Regions from separate parts of the Homo sapiens genome. Here regions 2, 3, 4, 5, 6 and 7 are each reported to be linked to region 1. Evidence: microRNA targets listed by miRTarBase, many of them from high-throughput screens and not tested one by one. Region 1 holds a microRNA gene; each other region holds the end of a gene's coding sequence. Distances are from middle to middle.
The links. The annotated mature microRNA hsa-miR-29c-3p reads UAGCACCAUUUGAAAUCGGUUA and lies in region 1 at 1,133-1,154, opposite strand. An mRNA with a match to its seed (bases 2 to 7 or 8) in the 3' UTR can be bound and repressed. Matches are read on the target gene's strand: a 7mer-m8 pairs with bases 2 to 8, a 7mer-A1 pairs with bases 2 to 7 and ends in A, and an 8mer does both.

Region 1 (3,219 bases):
TGGCTCACTGGGCCAGGCGAGGTGGTTCACGCCTGTAATCCCAGCACTTTGGGAGGCTGAGGTGGGTGGATCACGGGGTCAGCAGTTCGAGACAAGCCTGGCCAACATGATGAAACCCCGTCTCTACTACAAAATACAGAAATTAGCTGGGCGTGGAGGTGCCACGCCTGTAATCCCAGCTACTCGGAAGGCTGAGGCAGAATTGCTTGAACCCGGGAGGCGGAGGTTGCAGTGAGCGGGGACAGTGCCATTGCACTCCAGCCTGGGTGACAGGGTGAGACTCCGTCTAAAACAAACAAACAAACAAAAAAAAAAAACAAAAAAAAACTGGCTCATCTTGTTTTGAAGTGTTGACATAAACTAATAGTCAAAAGCACCACTCAATCTTTTATAATGCAAGTGAAATCAGTGCTGTGCCCCTTCAAGGAACCATGTGACAGTATGTTTAGTTGAGCACCAGTTCCTTGCAGGAACAGTTGCTGGCAGAAGGGCTGTGTCTACAGCCCATGTGGAACTAAGGAGTTTTCCCATTCAGTAGGGAGCATCCCTCAGCCTTGATCTTCAACATTTCTTCTCTTCCCTAATCTTTTCTCTCATTTTATTTCTTGGCTCATAGAATTTCATTCTTCTCTTAATGGGCTTCATTTTTAATGTCTGGCTGGCTGTAACCTACTTCAAATTCTTTATGAAGTAGGCAAGATCTGCACAGCCAATTAATTTTTCAGGACCCACTTCTTATCATCACAGAATTATGAATGGGAAATAATAGATGAAAAACACAGACATGATAAACTGAACATAGTATTTATTAAGGTCAGGATGCATGAATAGACTCTTCTCAACAGAAAGATAATTCAACAGCAATCAATTTACAGAATTTAGAACAGCACTACATTTCAGCAAAATGCAACTAGAGAACATCAGATAAATTATAGTAATTTGTTTTTAAAAATCCATTAAACTATCTCTTACCTCTGCAATAATGTATCATACATGCAGTTACAGAAGTTAGTAGGGAAAAGCATGATCTTCCTTCCCTATTCTCTGCCCATCCATCTTCCAGGAAACCACAGGCTGCTGCTGCCCAGAGTTGGCATGAGGCTTCGAGGCTGCTGCTTTTCCCCCTACATCATAACCGATTTCAAATGGTGCTAGACAAAAACAGACTCTGAACACCAGGAGAAATCGGTCAGCCTGTGTAAGAGATGGGCCAGTGGTGCTCCCAGGGTCTGCACCTCGACAGTCCAGGTGGCAAGTCTGATTTCGGGTGCCCCGCAATCAACGCCGAATACTCCAGGGCATCCTCTAAGAGCAGACTGATGGTGTCGATGTGGACAAAATGGTCCTCCAGGTGTACTGCCCTCTCCCCTGCCCCATGACAATCGACACCCAATACATTGTTATCCAACAGAATATGACAATCGCCACACTCAAAGGCCCTACGAACACATTCATGCTGGTGATGGCTGCTAGGAGTCAACAGAAATAGCATCACAACCTCTGCCCCTGCTCAAGCCACTGTGTTTATTTTAAACACAACCCCCTTCTCTACTGTCACCTCTCCCAAAACCCAACAAACTCAAGAGTGTATTTTGCTCTTCAAGTTCTTCCCTGGACTTCTCGAACAGACTCAAGTGGCAAGAGGAGAGGAGCCAGTTCCATGAGCAGCAGTTCCTCTGCAGTCCACCCTTGGCTGTGCTGCAATTCTTACTCCTAAAACACTGATTTCAAATGGTGCTAGATACAAAGATGGAAAAATCTAAGCCACCATGTGAAACCAGCTTCCAGAAGAAGAGGATCTCAATGAAGAAAGAAGGGAGATTCAATCGGAAGACCCAGCCTCTGCCCTGAGGAGAAATATCTTCTTGTAGTTCTACTTGTGATATGACACAGTGCTCCATGGGAAAGGCACAGAGGAGGTTACACAGGGCTGCACAAGGCAACATGAAAGGCACAGCTGATGCTTCAAATAGATGAGAGCAATACAAAACTCATTAATTCTAGGTTAATTCTATTTAACTTCACACCAGTCACTACAAATTATTATATATGATGAAATAAAAGCTAAAATTATTACTAAAATACATTAATATTTACATTTGTACTGCCCTGCATTTGTATAGTATTTCACAGTACACAAAGTGTTTCCAGATATATTCTCTTACTTCATCAGGACACAAGCACCCTATCTGCCTGTGGAATGAAGCTCCAGCTGCTACACAAAGGCGAGTCTCACCTGGGCCAGGACAACTCTTTTATGTGTCTTAACTTGAGAAAAGCATGCATTCCTCCTTCCCACCCCATATGTAAGTATCAGAACATTCAAATATGACCCCATGAACCTGCAATCTTATTTAACCCCGATGTGACTTCAAAAACTGGTACCCTATAATTGTATTAAGCAGATAATCCTCTAACGTAAGAATTGAGTTTTATTTTCAAAGTCTGCTTGAAAATAAGATTTGCACACTGTATTCCAAATTAGATTTCCCATCTCCTTACTGCATCATCTTTTTTGGTGGTTTGAAGCTAAGAAAATATGTGTATTTCCTCTGATACCATAACCAAGAGAAAAGAGACAGAGTAGACACTGTATATTTTAGCTTCCTTTCAGGCCTCTAGATACAGCCTTATAATTTTTATGGTTCCTGGCACTAACAGTATGTGTTGCTAGAAGGAGAAGAAATAGAATTTGAACATCAAAAGTTGCGGTGTTTAATTCTCACAACAGTCGTATGGGGCAGGTATTATTCCAATTTTTGCGAAGAAATTCATCCTTAATGAGGCTAAATAACTTGTCTGCAGTCACACAACCAATCAATGCAGATCCCAGGTCTAACTCCAAAGACTGTGTTTCTGCCCTTGTATCCACTGCAGCCTGCTCCATAACTTGACTATCATCTCATTTTGTTCTTGAACTTCATTAAGAACAAAACAGGGTGGGTGGGGCAGGAAATTCCTAGGCGATACTTCTGCACTGAATGGGATCATACTGACTACATAACACGTTATACTTAGGGGGAGACAGGAGCATCATCTGGGTTCTGCGAAAGCCGGGTGGTCTGGGGCAGCTTGCTTTGTTCTCCTGCTCCTCTAGCGCCTTTGCCGTCTTTCCCCAGCATGTGGCTGTGGGAAAGACACTGAAGATGAACCTGCAACAAGCGATTCTGACACCAGCGCTAGGCTCTACAGCCCACGGGGGACTTGCTAGCCTCAGTC
Region 2 (3,000 bases), 160 Mb from region 1:
TATTGACCACTGTGTGCCAGTCATTACCAATGCTTTCTTGTTTGATCCTCACATCTCTATGAAGTCCTACTATGTAACAGATAAGGAAATCAAAGCAGGAGCAGGTTAACTTGGTTCACAGTAAGTGAGACTCTAAGGAAGCCTAACTAACTCCAAAACCTGTGTGCTTAACCTTTACATTTTTGCTCAAAACCTGCCTTCTCCTGTTCCACAGGTGTCCAGCACATCTTCACTGGAAGCCAGCTTCCTCACCCCCGCAGTTGGCTTTGCTGATCCCCCACCTCGTACAGAAGAGCCCCTCAGTGGAGTCAAGGATAGAGATGAGGGTTTGGGCCCTCACCACAGTTCTGACTTGCCCCCAGTGAGTTTCTGAACCCAAGTGAATGTGGAGATGAGCATCTGAACATGCACAGGACTGGGGCCTATTTCCAGACCTACAGGTTTACTACTCCATGTTCTGACATTGGGTCTAGAAGCATCTAGCAGTTGAGTACAGAAAACCAGTTCCAACCACAGCTTTACCACCTCCCGTTAAGTCCTTAACTTTTCTGTACCTCTTCTGTTTTTGTAAAACAGATTAAGGATTAAATGAGTTTGTCAGGTATTTGTGATATTGTCTGGCACTTATGAAGTTCTCCGAAAGGTGACTAGGGGGCATTAATTCCCACTAAAGCAACTTTAAATTCCCACTAGTTCCCACTGCTTTTTTTGGTAAAGCCAGTTTTATTGCCAAACTTAAATCCGTTTCCTCAGTATTTCTGCCAGGAAACCTTTCAGGTTCTCAATGTACCCATAAACAGGAAGCTCCTGAGGCCTTATGTACTTTGATTCTGGGATAGGTCCCCAGCCCAAGGTTGTTCCCCCAACCAGGGGTCACATGTGAGATCTAGCTTAGATACTGTGCCTAGCCCTAGATCCCAGTGCCAACCAGAGAAGGTCAAGTGCCTGGGAGTAAACTACATCGTGACTGTCCTGACCAAGAAAAGGGGGCAAAGCGCCTCAGGACCTGGAACATATACTGCAAGGGCAACATCAGGAAGAAACTCCACAGCCAGGATAAGCCAGAGATCCTGCAACCATGAGTTACTGTGACCAGCCCAGAAAAACTTACTTAGTCTGAAAAATTGGGTTGAATTTAGGGGCCGGCCATCGCTTCCTCTGCCTCCAGTGCAACAAAAGCAGCCCTATGGGTGTCATGACTACTAAATTGAGGTGGTGATATAGGGCAGGCATTGTTTGGAATTCAGATCCTAACTGGTACTTAGAGTCAGGTCAGAGGCAGTTCAGTCTCAAGTGAGCCCTGACCCCTAGACACCAGTGAGAGCACAACAGGTCTAACATTAATACTAGTGCCCTCACCACCAGCATCCTTGGACTGGTGGGCTCGTTTCTGCCTTTGAAACCCTCTATCGCACACAGAAATGCTCCAGGCAGTCAGGTGAAGTGGCTCACGCCTGTAATCCTAACACTTCCTGAGGCCAAAGTGGGCAGATCACTTTAGGTCAGGAGTTCGAGACCAGCCTGGCCAACATGGTGAAACCTCGTCTCCACCAAAAATACAAAAATTAGCCTGTAGTGCTGGCTACTTGGGAGCCTCCTGAGGCAGGATAATCTCTTGAACCCAGGAGACAGAGGTTGCAGTGAGCCGAGATCACGCCACTGCACTCCAGCCTGGGCGACAAGAGCAAGATCCCATCTCAAAAAAGCAGCCTAAGACCCCACTTAAGATCTTTAAACATAATTCCAGACAAGGAGATTTTTAGCATCTTTATTTGAGAAGTCAATTCTGCAGATGGGTAACAATTCCAAGTGTTGATATATCTCAACCTTTCTATACAGAAAATAACAAAACTCAACCAGCCAGCCTCCCCACATATGCTTCCAACCACATCTGGAGTGTCCACCATCAGTCCCCTTGGCTACTTTCAAACCAGAGCTCAAATGCAGACCGTTTTCCTTAGGAATCATTCCCCTGACCCAGGTTTTCAGAGTTCTTTTTCCAGGACAGAATTATAGCCCCAGGTGAAGACTAGGTGGATATAGGACAAGAACCATCCTAGGCCTGGCTCACAGCCAAAGTCCATCATCCATTTTCAGCACTGAAGAGCAAGATCTTCACCAATTCTTGTTTTTGTAGCCCCCATCCAGGGACAGCACCACTGAAAGTTTGCAAGACAGCTGGGTTCAGTGAAGTGTTTGAAAACAGAATATAGCACCATTGGAAAACAAAGGCCTACAGCCACACTTGATCACCTCCACGTTAGACAGATAGGAATTAGGATCAGGAACACAGATCAGTACAGAAGGCCAGAACAAAACCTTTGGCTAATATATAAAACCAGCAGTGCTCCAAGGCAGATTCAGCCAATAATTAAGAAAAAAACCATCAAAGCCTCAACCTTTGCTTACAATCTTTATTGAAGTTATACAAAAAGAATCCTCCAAAAGTGAAAAAATACATTATATACAAAAACACTTTCCCTTGGGAGGAGGGCTGTGCCCCCTCTTAACATGCAGTGCTTTCAACTGTAGCTCCAGCCTCCACTGTCCCCTCCACTGCTGCCCGGCTTTCAGCCTGATTCTCAGCCTGGAAGACAAACAGAACCTGGGCATGAGTGAGCCTAGTTTAAGCCATTCTGTCTTATATAACTGAGGCCTCAGTCATAGGAAGCATATACAAGTCACCCAAACTCTGCTTTGCTCCCTATATTAAGAGGGCAGTGACCACAAAGTATTTCTTGAATACTCTGTGATAATGGGGCTGACAGAGCCAATAATCATCACGTGGAAGGAAGTGACCTAATGGTTTTGCCCATCAAGTGCCTTCTCATATATTCATCGAGGGACCTATAATATACAGGTTCCATTTGTCAGTGAGTCATCCTATACTCCCATAACCAAACTGTTTTCCTGCACAAGTACCGTTTTCTGTGAGGACTGCACTCAACAATCGTTAGCAGGCTCAAGGTGGGGAGCATGCACTTGAGAGGACTGATTTCC
Region 3 (3,187 bases), not on the chromosome of region 1:
GAGGCCAGGGTGTTTAAGGAGGAGTGACAGGGTCAGATTTTTGGTTTTGGTGCCTGATGGCCAGTTTGGGAGCCAGATAAAGGGGGACATACTGGGCTGAGACAAGATTGGGAGTCATCAAGAAGCAGGGAGTTGGTTTCTTCAGGGAGGGGAGGGGCTGGTGGGCACCATGGGAACACACAGATTTGGTTATCTGTCATCCCTCACCACAAACTGATCTTTCTTCTTTCCTTAGTTTTAATCAGCTGGATCTGCCTGCCTATGAGAGCTTTGAGAAGCTCCGCCACATGCTACTGTTGGCTATCCAGGAGTGCTCTGAAGGCTTTGGGCTGGCCTAATAAGGCCCTGCCCAACTCCGTGGGGTTTTTTTTACCATTGTTGGACCTGGGGAGGGGGGAGTTAAAAAAAGAACCAGAAAGAAATTGTCAAAAACCAATAAATGAAATCCACCAACTCACCGTGTGTGTCCCAGCTGCCCCATCTTCCCCAGCGCATACCTGTTCCTCTTCTCATTCTCTCCCCGCCGCCTGTTTCCTCACCTTCTCTCCCCTTTCCATGCCGTCCATGATCCCCACCCCATGTGTTTTAAAAAGGCAGTAGCCTTTGCAGGGACCTGTCTGTCCCAACTGTTTGAACAGTGTGCTCCTCAGATTCTGTGTTCAGAAGGATTTGCTGCATTGAGACTTGAAACCTTTGGATAGGGGAAAAAATTATATATATATATATTTTTTTGTTCTGTTTGCATTTCTTAATTTGTGCTTGGAATGTGTTGATGTGCACAGCTAATGATTCAATGCGAGACAAGATTGGCGTCTGTGTTGTGGAGGTTTCAAATAAAGAGCACTCTTCATAACTCACTTTTCACAATGGAGTTTTTTTCAAACTTAAAAAAAAAAACAAAAAACTCTTAAGCACATGCTAGGCATCTGGAGAAAAGATGGATTCTCCAGGAAACCATCCCTGCCCTACCCGCTTGCCCACCTGCCTCCACCACTGGTGCAACTTCCTCCTTCAGAGTCAGTTTCTGCAGTCAGGAGAGATGAGCAGTTCACCAGGAATTGGGGGTGGGGGCATCTGTTTTTTTTTTTTAGAATGGGAGCTGCACTTGGGGATGGTGATGGTGTTAGAGATTGCAGCCCAGGACAAAGCATCACCTTGCTCAAGGGGAACAAACTGCAGCAGGTTGTACAAAACATTCAGAGAGCTCACTTGACCCAACCGAGGGTTTTACTTGGTGAGCCTTTCTAGTAGTCTTGAGTCTGGGGCTCAGTTTTAGATTTTTATTTCATTAATGTTTGTTTATTTCTAATAAATTTTAATAAGCGAGTAATTTAACTAGGTCGCCAGAAGACCATTATTTTTGTTTGTCTATTTTTGTTGTCGTCACTCCCTCTCTCGTCATCTGTCTGCCAGTCTGTTCACAGATCACCTTGTAGTCCCTTGTGGTTTTTACTCCATCCAGTGCTTAAAGCTGATCTAAGGACTTCGATGGTTCCAGCCTTCAAAGAAAAAATAATTTAATAAAAATTTAGTTAGAAAAAATAACCCCAAGTGGTGCTTGCCTTGTGTGGTTTTTCTCATTTTCCTGGGGTGCTACCTCTGAACAGATTGTCCCCTTGACCTTGTCCCAAAGTGTGGGTCTAGGAAAGAAAGGGTGTGTCTTTAACCTGATCCCCTGGTCCTGGAGCCAAGGCTGCTAGCCATTTTCCCCTTTTTTAGTGTTCCCACTCTTTTGTGCCTGGCCCTGCTTTGATGACTGAGAAGGCAGAGGAATTGCCCCATCCGTGTTACTGAGCTTCTAGTAGGGAGGCGAAGACAGTGATTAGTTTTGTGACAGATGAAGAAAGGGGTCTCAGTGCACATAGAAGTGCCTGACCTAGCCTGGAGAGTCAGGGAAAGCTTTCCATCGTCGGTGCACTTGGATTGCAGCCTAAAGCTGAGCAGGAGTTGAGGTTAAGCAGAGAGGGGTCATATAATTCAAGGCAGGAGGAGTTTAGTTGCTTAGAGTCCAGCAGGACTTTAAAATGGAAGAGATACACCAGGTGCGGTGGCTCACGCCTGTAATCCCAGCACCTTGGGAGGCTGAGGCGGGTGGGTCACCTGAGATAAGGAGTTCAAGACCAGCCTGGCCAAAATGGCAAAACCCCGTCTCTACTGAAAATACAAAAATTAGCCAGGCGTGCTGGCGTGCGCCTGCAGTCCCAGCTACTGGCAGTCCTAGCCACCGCGCCAGTCCCAGCCAGGTTCCGTGACTCACGCCTGTAATCCCAGCACTTTGGGAGGCTGAAGCAGGAGAATCGCTTGAACCCGGGAGGCGAAGGTTGCAGTGAGCTGAGATCACGCCATTGCACTCCAGCCTGGGTGACCGAATGAGACTCGGTCTCAAAAAAAAAAAAAGAATAAGCAGAGAGTAGAATTTGTCAATAAGCAGTAAGATTAACTGGTTCTTTGAAATAAAGGTCTGGCAGGTAATTTAAATTTGAAAGTAAAGGGGGGGTTCCTGGGTTGGAGGTTGGGGGTTGGATGTGGAAGCTGGGAGTACAGATGGAATAATCCTATGGGAAATGGAAGCAAATCTCATTCAGTGGGATACTACAAAAATAGAGCATGATCAAGTGTGATTTGCCCCTGGGATATGTGTAGTGTAATATTAATCGCCTCATTGTCAGTTGAGAAATCTTTGTCCGTAGATGGCAAGGCATTTGTTCACATTCAAGAACCATTCCTGGCAACCTTTAAAGGTAAAGCTAGCTTGATAAGGTAGTTTCAGACCAACAGCCAACATCACACTTGAAAGATAAGGTGGCTAATTATCACTATTAGTGCTGTTCTGCTATTCTGCAGTTTTCTATTTCAGTAAAACAGGAAACAAAAGGTATAACTTAAACCATTTGCTAACGGAGTCAAAAGTTATTGGAGCAGGGCATGGTGGCTCATGCTTGGAATCCCAAGGCTTTCAGAGGCCAAGGTGGGAGGATTGCTTGAGCTCAGGAATTCAAGACCAGCCTGGGCAACATAGCAAGACCTCTCTACTGAAATTTTTTTTTAATCTAGGCATGGTGGCACACACCTGTAGTCCCAGCTACTCGGGAAGCTGAGGTGGGATGATCGCTTGAGCCCCAAAAATCGAGGCTGCAATGAGCTATGATCACGCCATTGCACTCCGGCCTGGGAGACAGCGAGACCC
Region 4 (3,219 bases), not on the chromosome of region 1:
TACCCTGGATCCCCTCCCCTGCTCCTGCACCAGTGATGGGCTCTGCCCGGTGGCACCTCAAAGTCAGGTACCCCAGGGATGCAGCCCCCAGGGCCCATCTGCATGGAGGAAGGCAGTGTTTTCTGACCAGGGCTCATTCACCCAACGGGGGTCTATAATTAGCACCTGGTTCAAGTCAGCCCCTATGTGACAGGCACTGGGGATTTGGAGGCGAGCAAGAAACTTCCCACACCAGCTCTCCACGTATTCCCCTGGTGCCAGGTTCTCCACCCTCTGTGTCTTTGAAGTTGCTGTTCCCTCTACCTTAGACTGAAGGTGAACTCCAATATCCCCTTCAATTCTGAGCCTAAATACCAAGGTCCTTGGGCAGAAGGGGTCCTCCCTTCCCGCCCCGTGTTCATCTCTCTATCATAGCACACAGTACTCTGGGTCATAGTAATGGATTTCTATGTCCTTCGCTCCCCACCCTCCCAACCCCCTTCCCCGGGCTGGGAGCTAGAGCTGCAAGGCTGGGGCAGGCCCTTCAGTCAGCAAAAAAGCAAGGGCTTCCTCAGCTGCGGGCCCAGGGCTAGGCTGGGTCAGACATAAAGAAAAGACTGACCCTGGGAGCTCACTCAGATGGGGAGAGAGTCAGGCAAACAGTGAGCCAGTGGAGTGCTGTGGAAGTCAGGGCAGAGTGCAGTGGGAGCCCTTAAGCATGGAGAGGAGGCGGGCAGGTGAGTGGGTAGGAGGAGCGGTCTTACAGGCAGAGGGAACAGCATAAGCAAAGGCCCAAGCCTTTGGGAAGCGTGGGGGATAGGGCTGGAGAGGCATGGGAGGTGCAGGGAGCCGAAGTGTCGAAGGGCTTTGTGCGCTGAGCCTGCACCTTGGGATTTCTCCTGAAGGCAACAGCGCCCCTCCTCTCCAGGGGGTTTTGGCCGGGAAAGGACCCCATCCGAGGTCCTTTAGACTGATGCTCCTGGCTGTGTGAGGAGGACAGGAGTCAGGGGAGTTTAAGAGGCATTTGCAGAAAGTGACCAGGGCTGGGGTTGGACCCAGGGCAGAGGGAATAGAGAGAAGGACATATATTTAGAATAGATTTCAGAGGCTGTATCAAAACAATTTGACGATGACGTTGAAGGTGGGCAGAGAGGGTGGGGAGAGAGAGGAGGTAAAGATGGTGCTGTCACTGAAATGATAGACCTGGCAGGAAGGGGAGGAGGGGAGACAGAGCTATTGGGGCAGCGCATGGAGTACCCCGGTGCAGGGGTTCAGCCAGGAGGCAGGTGAGCAGGGCAGAGGGGAAGGCGGCATTGATGCATGGGTGCTGTCATTGCCACTGAGTGGACAGGCATCCAGGGGAAGCCTGGAGGGTGGCTTGGTGGGGGCAGGGTCAGGGGCAGCAAGCAGGGGCCTGGGCCTGTTCTCTGCGCCTGCACCAGCCCCTGAGATCGTCTCTGCTCCCCCTCTGCAGGCCTGGAGTTTGCCTACTCAGAGGCCCCGCGCTCCATGCAGGGCGCCATCATGGGCATCTTCTTCTGCCTGTCGGGGGTGGGCTCACTGTTGGGCTCCAGCCTAGTGGCACTGCTGTCCTTGCCCGGGGGCTGGCTGCACTGCCCCAAGGACTTTGGTGAGTATGGGGCCTCCCCAGGAGTGGGACATGGATGGAGGGAGGCTTGGAAAGGAGGTGGCAACTGCTAAAGTGCTTTGACTCTGGGGAGAAGCAAGTAGAGGGCTAGACTTGGGAGAATGGGGTTCTAGCCCGGGCTTGGCCAGTCACCCACAGCGTGGCCTCCCTCCTTGGGCCTTTCTTTCCCCAAGTGTTGAACTTAGTGGACCTCCAAGGCTCCTTTCTGCTTCTGGAACTCTGCCATCTCTGGCTGAAGGGTTACCTTTCTCATGGTGTTTATATTTCACGCCCCCTTCTGAATAGCTGAAGAGGAATTGTAGACACCCCTGGAGATCTTCAGGAAGTCAAACATTAGTGGGTATCTGTCCAGTGTCTTCAGATCCCACCACTGCCCACATGGCCTCAGTTGCCAGCCCCAGGGCTAGGACACGGCAGGCACAGGGCGCAAGACAGAGGATCCCTGTCCTGACCCAAATCTAACCCCTCCTTTCCCCAGGGAACATCAACAATTGCCGGATGGACCTCTACTTCTTCCTGCTGGCTGGCATTCAGGCCGTCACGGCTCTCCTATTTGTCTGGATCGCTGGACGCTATGAGAGGGCGTCCCAGGGCCCAGCCTCCCACAGCCGTTTCAGCAGGGACAGGGGCTGAACAGGCCCTATTCCAGCCCCCTTGCTTCACTCTACCGGACAGACGGCAGCAGTCCCAGCTCTGGTTTCCTTCTCGGTTTATTCTGTTAGAATGAAATGGTTCCCATAAATAAGGGGCATGAGCCCTTCCTCACGACCATGGTCCATGACAAGGGGCAGGGCAGAGGGGGCCTGGATGGGAGTCCTTGTGGGGGACCAGGCAGGGGACTTGGATCAACAAGCACCAGACGAGTGGCGGGGGCAGGCGAGAGGCTCAGTGGGACCTCCACCCTCGTTGCCCCAGCTGGTGGCTGACCAGGTGGCTGTGGAGGGTCAGGAGCTGCCCCGGATCCTCTCCATGTAGTTGCGAAGCTCCTCAGGGTCCTTCAGCCCCATGTCCTCACACACCCAGCGGATGTCCTCCTCGCCTGCCACAAGGATGGACTGCACAGCAGGGGCCCCTACAGGCTCCTCAGGTGACTGGGCTGGAGGGGCTGGCGCAAATGTCACAAACTCTACTCGCTTCCGCCGCCCCCCAGCCTCCTTTCGGGCCAGGGTGCTTGAGGAGCTGGTGGTGCCCCCAGGAGGGCCAGGGGCCAGGGTAGGGGCCTCCCCTCCTCCCCCACTCTCACAGGGGCAGCTCCCCTCCCCCTTGGGCGGGCCAGGGGACTGCCGGTCCAGCTGGCGGCTCAGTTCCTCCTGGTCAGTGCCCAGCCAGACCCAGTTGTGGGGCTGGGGGGAGGTGGGGTCAGTGGCACTGTCGGGAGGTTCTTTGCGCTGATAGCGCAGGACGAAGACCACACCATTGACCAAGAAGATGAAGATGGCCACGCAGAAGACTCCCAGCAGGGCGTACATGCCCAGCTCTAGCTCAGTGACATGCTGAGGGGCAGGGACCATCTCCTCCTCCTCTTCCTCCTCCTCCTCCCTGGCTTCGGTCTCCTCCTTCCTGGCCTCCTCCTCTGCCCGCTCAAACTTGCC
Region 5 (3,000 bases), 99 Mb from region 1:
GGAGTTCTGGTTGCAGTGAGCTTCAGTCATGCCACTGCACTTCCATCTGGGCAACAGAATGAGACCCTGCCATGAAAACGCCACAATATTATGACAGCTGAAGACCATCATCATTAACTCAGTGCAAGTCCTGATGCACTGCCAGAGTCAACATATGCTCTTGGATGAGACCTATTTTAGAATGAATAGATAAACATGTTTGAAGAGCATTTCTTGCCACCATTTGTCGATAGGTCAAGAATTGGGGAATTCTAATAGATTATTGTGGGAATAAGTGTGAGAGAATCAGGATCTAGGCTAATCCAATGTATTAATGATAAACATTTAATATTTCACATAGTTTCTATCCGTGATGCCTTTAAACGTTATGGAAATCAAATCTAGTAGAAAAATACCCAGTGCCCCATCTCTCCAGGGGTAAGGTTACTTGGAACAGTTTCAAACACTGCAGCTCAAAATTTTGAAGTTTTTTTCCACTGCTGTTTTAGGGTGGGGTCTGGAGCTTATGAACAAGTTGTGATCAAACGCTAGAAGTCAAGTCGGTGAAAACATTTCCTTGTGGATTTAAGATGTGAGTAGTTGATGTATCAAGGCATTTTATTCAAGCACTTAATAGAAAATGAACCTCAACTATCAAGAGGAAAGCCAATGCTGGTTTCTTCTCTGGAAGGACCCACCGCCATCCTGTACCAGCCACCAAAGGGGAACATCTACATGGCAGTCTCCAGGCACTGTGCCACTGTGTGCCTTGGAAGCACCTGGCTTCTGTGGTCACTGCACATCATAATGAAAAGCCTGCTTTTTCTTTCAGAACACCCCAGCGGAGAAAACAGCATTATATACATCGGAGTATCATTTTAGGATTCAAGTGTAAAAATCTGTGATCAAGAGGCTCAATAGATTTGGGCTCTATGGTTTGGTTTTTTTAGTTTGAGAGACAGTACATGAATATAACTTAAACCCTATAGATTTTGTCAAGATAGTTGTAATTCCTGTTCTGGAAATCTTCCCTATTACACTACCTACAGCATTGTATAAAGTGTGGGTGTTCATGCTTTGGGAAAATGTTAGACTACAATTTAAACATGTGATGTGCTTATTCATAATTCTCAGTGTATCAGTCATAAATGAAATAACAAGTGCATTTAAGTCAGAGATACGTGAATGGATGTAATGCCGTTATGCAGTATATATTGTTAATTGTCATTAATATTAGATGAGCTGCAGAACCACCCCCAAGCACTACATAAAAGACTCAAAATAAGTTTAACACTTACTGTGTTGGGCACCCTAACAGAAGAGCTATCTTAACTCATTGAATATTAAGATCTGCTGGTTTCAGGAGTCAAAATGTAGAAAAAGAGGAGAATTGTAATATGGTCAGAAACAGAGAAGCCTTTTCTATGTAAATTCAGACTTATCTGAGGCTAACAGTTTTCCGAAGTGGTGGTGGGTAGCAGCATGACAGCTGCTTGCCATGACTGATGCAGACTACTAGGTTTCCATTTTAGCTCTCTGTAGGTACTGTTTTCTTCCCCACTGTGTCGAAAGTGATTTGTTTTGAAGCAAGAGTAGAATATAACATCTATCAAATATAGCTTTTAAAATAAGAATACCTGGTCTGGATCCAGTTGAGCAGCACAGCAGATAAACCTTAGAGTTTTTCTGTTCTTACATGACGGTTTCCATGTGGAAAGATCTAAACTTTCTTGGAATCACTATTAGTGAAGAAAAATGTAGAATCTGTATAACCAGTAATTCCCCAATTCTTACTTTCAAAGTCATATCCAAGAAAGACAATATGTCAGAATAGAATGACTTTGGTCTAGGTGTTTTCACGTTGGCAAAAATAAGGAGGAAATTATATTATTTTAATATCCAAATTTAAAGGTTTGGAAAATTTTGAATAGTTAATATTAGAACTTATGTTGCTGTTTTTTATATTTCAAGGATTGAGTATTCTGCATTAATCCAATACTATTCCAACAAAGAGATTCTGGAAGTTTTTAAAAAATGATACCCTGTTTTATATTTTGAATGTAGAGAGACTCTGAGAGAGAGAATGTTCTGAGTTATACTTTTTATTTTTTAAGATTTATTTTTAAGAATAAAACATTGACCTGAACATTTTAGCCTAACCAAGGGACTTAAGTGGTAAAGACTTGCATTATGTCTTCATGTGAACTGATCCGTTCATTATATATTATGGGAAAAATCAAAGAAAGTTTTTTATAGAGATATGAAGATATTATTTAGAGAGATATTTATTATGACATTTTTTAAAAACATATTTTTCTATTTTCAAAATATTATTTCTAGGCTATATTTTTATTGGTGCTGTGCAAATGATTTTGCAGTTTTGAAAATGATAAAACTAGATTGTAAGTGGGGTTCAGTGAGGACATTCATCAGACACGTAAGAGGTGCTGCAATCAGGGTGATGCCCATCTTACTCATCCTTGGCTGCCCTTGGTCCGACACCTCTCTATACAAGACTGGTTCTCAGTATTTTAAATGGTACAGAATTCTTTTTAAAAAGTAGAGAGATTTTGAAAAGCATAAAAATCATGCCTTTATAATCTTAGCAGCCATCAGATACACCTTGATTTATGTAGTAGTAAATATAACAAATATTTTAATAAATAGAAACACTGATAAGGAAGAAAAAAGAACTAATGTCTATGTCTTCTGTAGTCAGCAAAAGTCTGGATCCATTTTCTATTTTGTGTTCCATTGGCACACTTTGTGTTCAAATTTCAGTGCAGTCCTTTCAAAATACTCGCTAAGGGTTGCCTAAGTGTCTGCCTTACTTTCTGATTGTCCTTTTCTGAGAGCATGGTTAAGAACATCTTAACCATATAGCTGTTGAAAAAATCTGTTTATTAAATAACAAGTTCACTTCTGTTTATGTTTTGAGTTTAGAAAATTTGACTTGAAAATTTAGATTATTAATAAATTTATTTTTAAATATTAAAGTCAAATTTCAAATCACCCAGTGTT
Region 6 (3,219 bases), not on the chromosome of region 1:
TTTTAAAATTTATTTTAAATTTATTTATTTATTTATTTTTTGAGACAGAGTCTCGCTCTGTCGCCCAGGCTGGAGTGCAGTGGCACGATCTCGGCTCACTGCAAGCTCCGCCTCCTGGGTTCACGCCATTCTCCTGCCTCAGCCTCCCCAGTAGCTGGGACTACAGGCACCCGCCACCATGCCTGGCTAATTTTTTTTGTATTTTTAGTAGAGATGGGGTTTCACCGTGTTAGCCAGGATGGTCTCGATCTCCTGACCTCATGATCCACCCGTCTCGGCCTCCCAAAGTGCTGGGATTACAGGCGTGCGCCACCGCACCCGGCCTAATGTAAGCTTTTGTCCTGGAAGGAATGTTGGCCACAGCTAATGGCAAAATTTGATTTGCATTTATGAGTGTAGAAAAAAATGCCCACATACAGGTAACTTTCAATATTATATTTGCCTAAATCAGGAAAATACGTAAATGTTTCAGATGTACTCTCTGAAAGGTGTTTAATGCTTTTTTTTTTTTTTTCCTATCAGTGAGAAAAGATCTATGGGTACTAGTTGTGTGTGGAGTATCTTAGCCACTATGAAGCGTAAGCCCATTTAGTTTCAGGATAGAAAAACACAGTAAACGAAGCGCTATTTCTTGGCTGTGAGATAATATTATTTTGAGAAGATGTCATCTGTGACACAGCAACTGACAGAAGCAAACTGACTCATCTGGTTTATCTCAGTAGATGGCATAAAGTATAACCTTGCCCAGGAGAAGTGGCAAAGAATTTCTTATTCATATTTATATCTTTAGTTTTGCTATCCAAAGGAACACACCTGCTAGATTCTGAGTTCCATAGTCTTAGACTGGAAGGAACTTCCAAAATAGTTCCTGAGCTCTTTGTTTTCTGGGTGACGAGGTAATTTGTTCACTGGCTTCCCTGTAAAAGTCTAGAAGCCAGTGCTGTGGTGGCCCATCACACACTGTGGGTCTCATGAAGGTTGGAGAGAGGAGTCTGTTCAGATGGAGCTTCTTGTTTCTGCTTCTTACTCTTCCTGCTTTTAAATTCCCAGGCCTCATAGACTCTGAACTGCTTGCTTCGATCTGCAATACTGCCTCTCTTCCAAGGGCTTTGTCTGGCTCCCTAACCTTGATCTATTTCGTGCTTTCGATTTTGCTACCGGTCAAATGGGCCCTACTGGACTTCCGAATCATTGCTTTCTTTATCTTAGATGCCTGCTAGGCCACTCGATCCTTCCAGAAGCTAGAAAGCCTGGCTTGCCCCTTGTCTAGCCACCTTTCCCAGGCTGTGCCTCACTTTGTGGTGTATAGAAGTTACTCATTTCAAAAGCTAGGGAAAGTTACAATTTACCTGTCAGTAAACAGAAGATGGTTTATCAACAGACTTTACCTTAATGACTACAAATGTTTACCTCCTGCTTTCCAGAATGCAAAGAAAATCTTGGAAATGTCATAATATCTTACAAACATTTGCAAAACAGATCCTTGTTCATCCGGAAAAGAAACAATTGTATTTGTTGTCTCTGTCACAAGGAAAACGTTCAGTGAGAAACACATAGGTAGATGTATACATCTATATGTAAATGAATATGCTAATTAAAAATTGCAGTGGGTACTTTATTAAGAATTTATTTTACCATCTAGCCATTCAAAACATCTTTACATCAACAAACACAGCAGTTTGACTATTGAAATCATAAGCGATTTATCTTGAAAAGGTTATATTTGTAGGTGGATGCAAGTATATTGGAGAAATATTTCTATCAAAATCACTGGTTTTGTTAGGAGTATTTTGATTTTTCTATTTTTACGCTGGGAAAAAAATTAAAACAAGTATGTCAGTGTTCATTTTATGGGATAGTTGGCTTCACTGTGTTTGTCATGTTTGTCCGAATTACAGCTGTTTATCTTGCAACTTTAAGATTAATTAAATGCAAATGTAACTCTGTGAATCATGGGAATACCTGCCAGACCTCTTATTAATACCTTCACTTAAAACCCCCTGTGCCTGAGAGTCATTAATTTGCTAAAAGAAAAGTGCTAAAGCAGCCCTTTGCCCACAAACAATTCTGCGATGGCTGCCCAATTAATCCCAAAGCATTCTGATCCTCCTTTCAGGCCTCGTGGCCCTTTGAGGACACAAGAAGGCTCCGATGATAACCTGGCAACCTAGGTAGAAACCCAGCCAAGTGTGAGCGTTTGAAGCTGCAGTTTGGCTGCCATCGTGTCGGCGAAAAGAAAGAATTCAGGCACCATGTCATCCAGTACAAAGGATAAAAACGGATTCAACCGGAAATTCAATGTGGCACCACATATGGGATACATGAGTGCGGTTATACAACAGGCCACATATTTTTTTTGAACAGTCTCCTACATGTGATGCCGAGGACATGTGTAACCATCATAACGTCTCTAGGAATCTGTATTTAATTTGAGTTGGGGTGGTGGCAGGGATTGGAGATCTGAAGCCGCCACAGGTTTGTGGCAGATGGCTCTGTGTCAGCTATGACAAGCAGCCAGGCTCAGCTTCCTCTGCAGATTTTCTTTTCTCTCTGATCAGGTAAATATGGGCACACTCTGGAAAGTTCTTCAGATTCTGCCTTAGGCTGCAAGTTTGTGACTTAGCCCCATCTGTCACAAATCTTCCCTAGGTTCTGTTGTAAGCAGAGACCTGAATTTACCATGTAGGGCTGCCCAAGAAAACGGAGCGATTTCACCCTGCAACGAGGAGGAGGGAGAGAAGAGAAAGAAGTGAAGAGCATTAATGACTAAAAGATGAAAGTATGCTGAAAATTTATATTGCAAATTTGCATCACTTACGTCAATTACATTTCAAAAAGCCACCAAGTAAATGGTTCTTGAGTTTCATCACCTCAGGAAATCTCAGTTTCTGATTGGTCTAAAGTGTCGTTGTATTTCCAACCAGAGAAGAAGGCTACTGTTTTCTGCAAATGGGTATATTCTGCTGCACACATATTTCTTGGTTTATGTTATGAATGACAACCATTCATAGTTGGATGATGAAAGTTCATCATCCAACTTTTAACTTATATAAACACAAGACACGTAACACTGTACATACAAGTTTCTGCCGTGAATTTTACTTTTAAATGATGAAGACACAAAGATAAATGCCATTACTATTATGTGAAATTTAAAAAGTGCTTCATATTTATAACAGGTTTATATTCATTATTTCATTATACCAGTACTTCAGGGGT
Region 7 (3,219 bases), not on the chromosome of region 1:
TTGCAGTGAGCCGAGACCATGCTATTGCACTCCAGCCTGGGCAACAAGAGCGAAACTGTCTCAAAAAAAAGAAAAAAAAAAAGATTTGGTAACCCCATATTTTCTGTCTAGTTCTAGTAAATTGTATGACTTTATTTCACTGATGAATTTCTTTTGTTTTCTCTCATTTAATCTTTTTAATACTATGAAGTAAGTATTATTAATATCCTCAACTTATCATATGAAAGAATTTAAGTACAAAGATGTAAATAAATTTTCTGAAGCCTCGCAGCTAGAAACAAAACGTAGGAATTTTGATGCAGGAAATCTCAGGACAGAAGCCATGCTCTCAGCAACCACACTAAAAGGCCTTTCACGTAACATGGTGCTGAGCACGTAACATAGTTATGTTGCAAAAATGTACTTGCAGAGCAAGATTATTCACCTATTCATTCTTGAAAATCAGCGTGTTATGAGTTAGTCTTAAATTTCTCCAAGGCAAAACTATGACACAATGTATGCCATGCTAAATTATGGAAATATTTCATCCTGAGATGCCAAATTTTAAAGCAGAAATACTGAAAGTAAATATAGTTTACATTCCATAGATTTTGTTGTTCTTGGAATTCTTCATGCTTTTTCTAACCCTCCACCCTTTGCTCATTTTCATTATCTTTACATGACTTAGTTATGCCAATACCTCCTAGCCTACTATAATCTGCACTACTCTGCTTGGAATGCCATAACAAAATATCATTGACTTGCTGGCTTAAGCAACAGAAATTTTTGTTCATACAGTTCTGAAGGCTGGAAGTTCGAAATTAGGGTGCCAGTATAGTCGGGTTCTGGTGAGGTCCCTTTTCCAGGTTGCAGAGAGTCACCTTTCACAATGTACTCACATAGTCTTCCCTGGATGTGAGAGCTAGAAGGCCATGAGGTAGATGAAGCAGATGAAGGGAGGGAGGGTAGTAGGGGAGAGCAACCTCTTCCTCTTCTTATAAAGCCACCAATTCTATGGGATTAGGACTCCACCCTTATGACCTCATTTATCTTGGTTACCTCCTGAAAGCCCTATATTCAAATATAGTCACATTGGGGGTAAGGGCTTCCATATATGAATCGGGGGCATACAATGCAGTCCATAACATCATCTTTTACATTTCAATTGCATTTTCTCCATTCTTAGAATTAATATATTGGAATCACCTGTACACTTACCTGTGTCTCGTTATACATGTGTTCCCTCAGGCCAAATTCTAACTATATTGCCATTGTATCCCAGGCACCGAACCTATCCATGTGGTGAGTACTGTTGGATGAATAAATCAATGATACCAAATGGCTTTATTCTGATTCTTTACCAGCTCTTAGAAGCAAATGTCATAATTAAAGCAGGGGTGATAGGTTTGTTGGCTTAAGCAGATACCTGGGCCTTTACTGGAGATAAAACACCAGAACAAGCCTTATGCTCATTCAGCCACTAAACATCATAAATTTTAGTCCCCTCCAAAGTCCTCATCAAAATAATAGAATTTGCACGACAATAAAGTTAAACACTGGGCAACAGCCATGACTGTGCTAGGAAGCAAGTGTTTCAACTGTTCAGGTGTGTAGCACACCAATTCAATTTGTAATTTCTTATTTCAGGTGAACACATTTTTTAAGAATAGGCTGAATGATTTCATAAATTATATCCATTGAATAAATGACCATGCAATATACATACCATACTCAACAATCAGTTAAAATTAGGTATAAAAAAAGACATTGTAATCAGGCCTGTACAAAACTTTATTATACTCTGAATAACAAGCATGTAACAAAATTTTGAGCATGACAAGGATGAAATATTTCAAATTCTGTTTCTTACAAAAGCATTAAGCACAATACACAAAGACTGTTCATAATATTTTACAGTCAGCTAAAAATAACAAGACATTCTAGGATTTCAGGAGTTTTCCTTTTCTTTCAACTAGAGCATTAGCTTTATTTCCATTAGCTTTGCTACAATGAAAATTAACATATATGGACATACACATATAAGTGAAATGGAAAATGAAGGCATACAACAAACATTCCGATTAATCAACAAGTATAAAATAGTCTTTTAGTACTTCCAAACTTACATTTTCTTTGAATGTACAATGAAACTTTTTGTCTAAAATGTTTTTAATGTTAATTTTGACCATTCCCAAAGTAATTAATACTCTTTCTTAGCACCACCATTAATCTAATTTTAGAGTTTGAAATGAATTAAGAAACACTCTAATCTTATTCAGAGGTGCTATTCACAACACCGAACAACAGGCAATCCACTGCCCCTTATCAAGGCTGAGACACTGTAGTAAATGAGTAGTTCACCAATACTGTCTATCCCAGGTGAATATCAGCCCTGATCTTACTTCCAATGATGAGATACATGTTTTGGCTTATGTAGTAGCATGAGCTATGAGATAGGAAACATGAAAGTCACATGGACATGAAATTAAACTCAAATCTCTACTGCATGGAGGCTGAATGTGAAATATTTCACAGTGACTAAAACTGACTGGCTAACAGGCAATGGTGGATTTTTATATTCAACTTTGATTAACATAAATGGACTTTACAAGAAACCCTTGAGATTTAATTAATGCTGCTAATCCAAGGGCTCCAAATGACTGAGGAGCCTTTAAAATCAGTATATGTGATCTTTTATATTTTTTTCCATAAGAAAAAAAAAATAAAAACACCGAGGTACTTAAGTTTCTTTTCAAGGGATTACTGTTGGTTATCTTCCTGAGATGCAAAAGACCACAGAAAAAGCACCATGCCTAGGCTGCTGAATGAGGCATCAGACACTAATAGTTTGGTCCTTTTCTGAACGGATCTCTTCTGGCAATTACACTAAAACATAGTGATGGGTCGCAGATGCCTGGGGGGCCTGGTTGCCCTTGGATTCCAGGTTTTCCATGGTCTCCATCTTTGCCAGGGAGACCTGGGTCTCCTGGAGGACCTTCTTTGCTTATTCCAGGAGGGCCCTCTGGACCTAAGATGGGACATTGGCAAGACGTAAACAGAGGACTTTAGTTTTTTATAATGAAATAGCCAATTCTGCAAGAAACTTAAACTGAAAAAAAAAACCTTGAATATTTTATATATTTGCACTAATTATATAGTAGAGGCATTTTCTTGATAATTCTACATGTCTTCTGCTTTGAAAAGAACCATCCAAAAGTTAAAGTTATCAGTAATTTTTGA

Region 2: the mRNA of NASP is a reported target of hsa-miR-29c-3p. Seed matches in the 3' UTR shown: 8mer at 2,211-2,218 and 7mer-m8 at 2,153-2,159.
Region 3: miRTarBase lists HUWE1 as a target of hsa-miR-29c-3p. The part of its 3' UTR that is shown has no 7-base or 8-base seed match.
Region 4: miRTarBase lists TMEM132A as a target of hsa-miR-29c-3p. Seed matches in the 3' UTR shown: 7mer-m8 at 2,479-2,485.
Region 5: the mRNA of EEIG2 is a reported target of hsa-miR-29c-3p. Seed matches in the 3' UTR shown: 7mer-m8 at 2,333-2,339.
Region 6: miRTarBase lists QTMAN as a target of hsa-miR-29c-3p. The part of its 3' UTR that is shown has no 7-base or 8-base seed match.
Region 7: the mRNA of COL21A1 is a reported target of hsa-miR-29c-3p. Seed matches in the 3' UTR shown: 7mer-m8 at 2,783-2,789 and 8mer at 2,194-2,201.

Annotation. Positions count from the first base shown.
Region 1 is chr1:207,800,733-207,803,951 of GRCh38, forward strand. It overlaps MIR29C (microRNA 29c), which reads right to left and starts at 1,207; the gene lies at 1,120-1,207. MIR29B2CHG (MIR29B2 and MIR29C host gene) reads right to left here. Exons shown (of 6, transcript NR_135299.1): 6 at 786-1,930. It overlaps MIR29B2 (microRNA 29b-2), which reads right to left and starts at 1,791; the gene lies at 1,711-1,791.
Region 2 is chr1:45,617,648-45,620,647 of GRCh38, reverse strand. It overlaps NASP (nuclear autoantigenic sperm protein), which reads right to left. Exons shown (of 15, transcript NM_002482.4): 15 at 1,755-2,587. The coding sequence ends at 2,507. CCDC17 (coiled-coil domain containing 17) reads left to right here. Exons shown (of 13, transcript NM_001114938.3): 13 at 215-604. The coding sequence ends at 373. Among named protein-coding and RNA genes, the nearest start is that of CCDC17, 4.9 kb to the left of the region's middle.
Region 3 is chrX:53,530,460-53,533,646 of GRCh38, reverse strand. HUWE1 (HECT, UBA and WWE domain containing E3 ubiquitin protein ligase 1) reads left to right here. Exons shown (of 84, transcript NM_031407.7): 84 at 236-1,551. The coding sequence ends at 338. Among named protein-coding and RNA genes, the nearest start is that of MIR98, 24 kb to the left of the region's middle.
Region 4 is chr11:60,936,260-60,939,478 of GRCh38, reverse strand. It overlaps TMEM132A (transmembrane protein 132A), which reads right to left. Exons shown (of 11, transcript NM_178031.3): 11 at 2,320-3,219. The coding sequence ends at 2,572. SLC15A3 (solute carrier family 15 member 3) reads left to right here. Exons shown (of 8, transcript NM_016582.3): 7 at 1,454-1,609; 8 at 2,106-2,395. The coding sequence ends at 2,260. Among named protein-coding and RNA genes, the nearest start is that of TMEM132A, 13 kb to the right of the region's middle.
Region 5 is chr1:108,634,620-108,637,619 of GRCh38, forward strand. It overlaps EEIG2 (EEIG family member 2), which reads left to right. Exons shown (of 11, transcript NM_001010883.3): 11 at 489-3,000. The coding sequence ends at 531. Among named protein-coding and RNA genes, the nearest start is that of HENMT1, 25 kb to the right of the region's middle.
Region 6 is chr2:143,944,420-143,947,638 of GRCh38, forward strand. QTMAN (queuosine-tRNA mannosyltransferase) reads right to left here. Exons shown (of 12, transcript NM_001376312.2): 12 at 1-2,716. The coding sequence ends at 2,633. The region is part of intron 2 of QTMAN-AS1 (QTMAN antisense RNA 1); the gene reads left to right. Among named protein-coding and RNA genes, the nearest start is that of QTMAN-AS1, 9.0 kb to the left of the region's middle.
Region 7 is chr6:56,054,838-56,058,056 of GRCh38, forward strand. COL21A1 (collagen type XXI alpha 1 chain) reads right to left here. Exons shown (of 30, transcript NM_030820.4): 30 at 1,753-3,007. The coding sequence ends at 2,820. Among named protein-coding and RNA genes, the nearest start is that of BMP5, 180 kb to the left of the region's middle.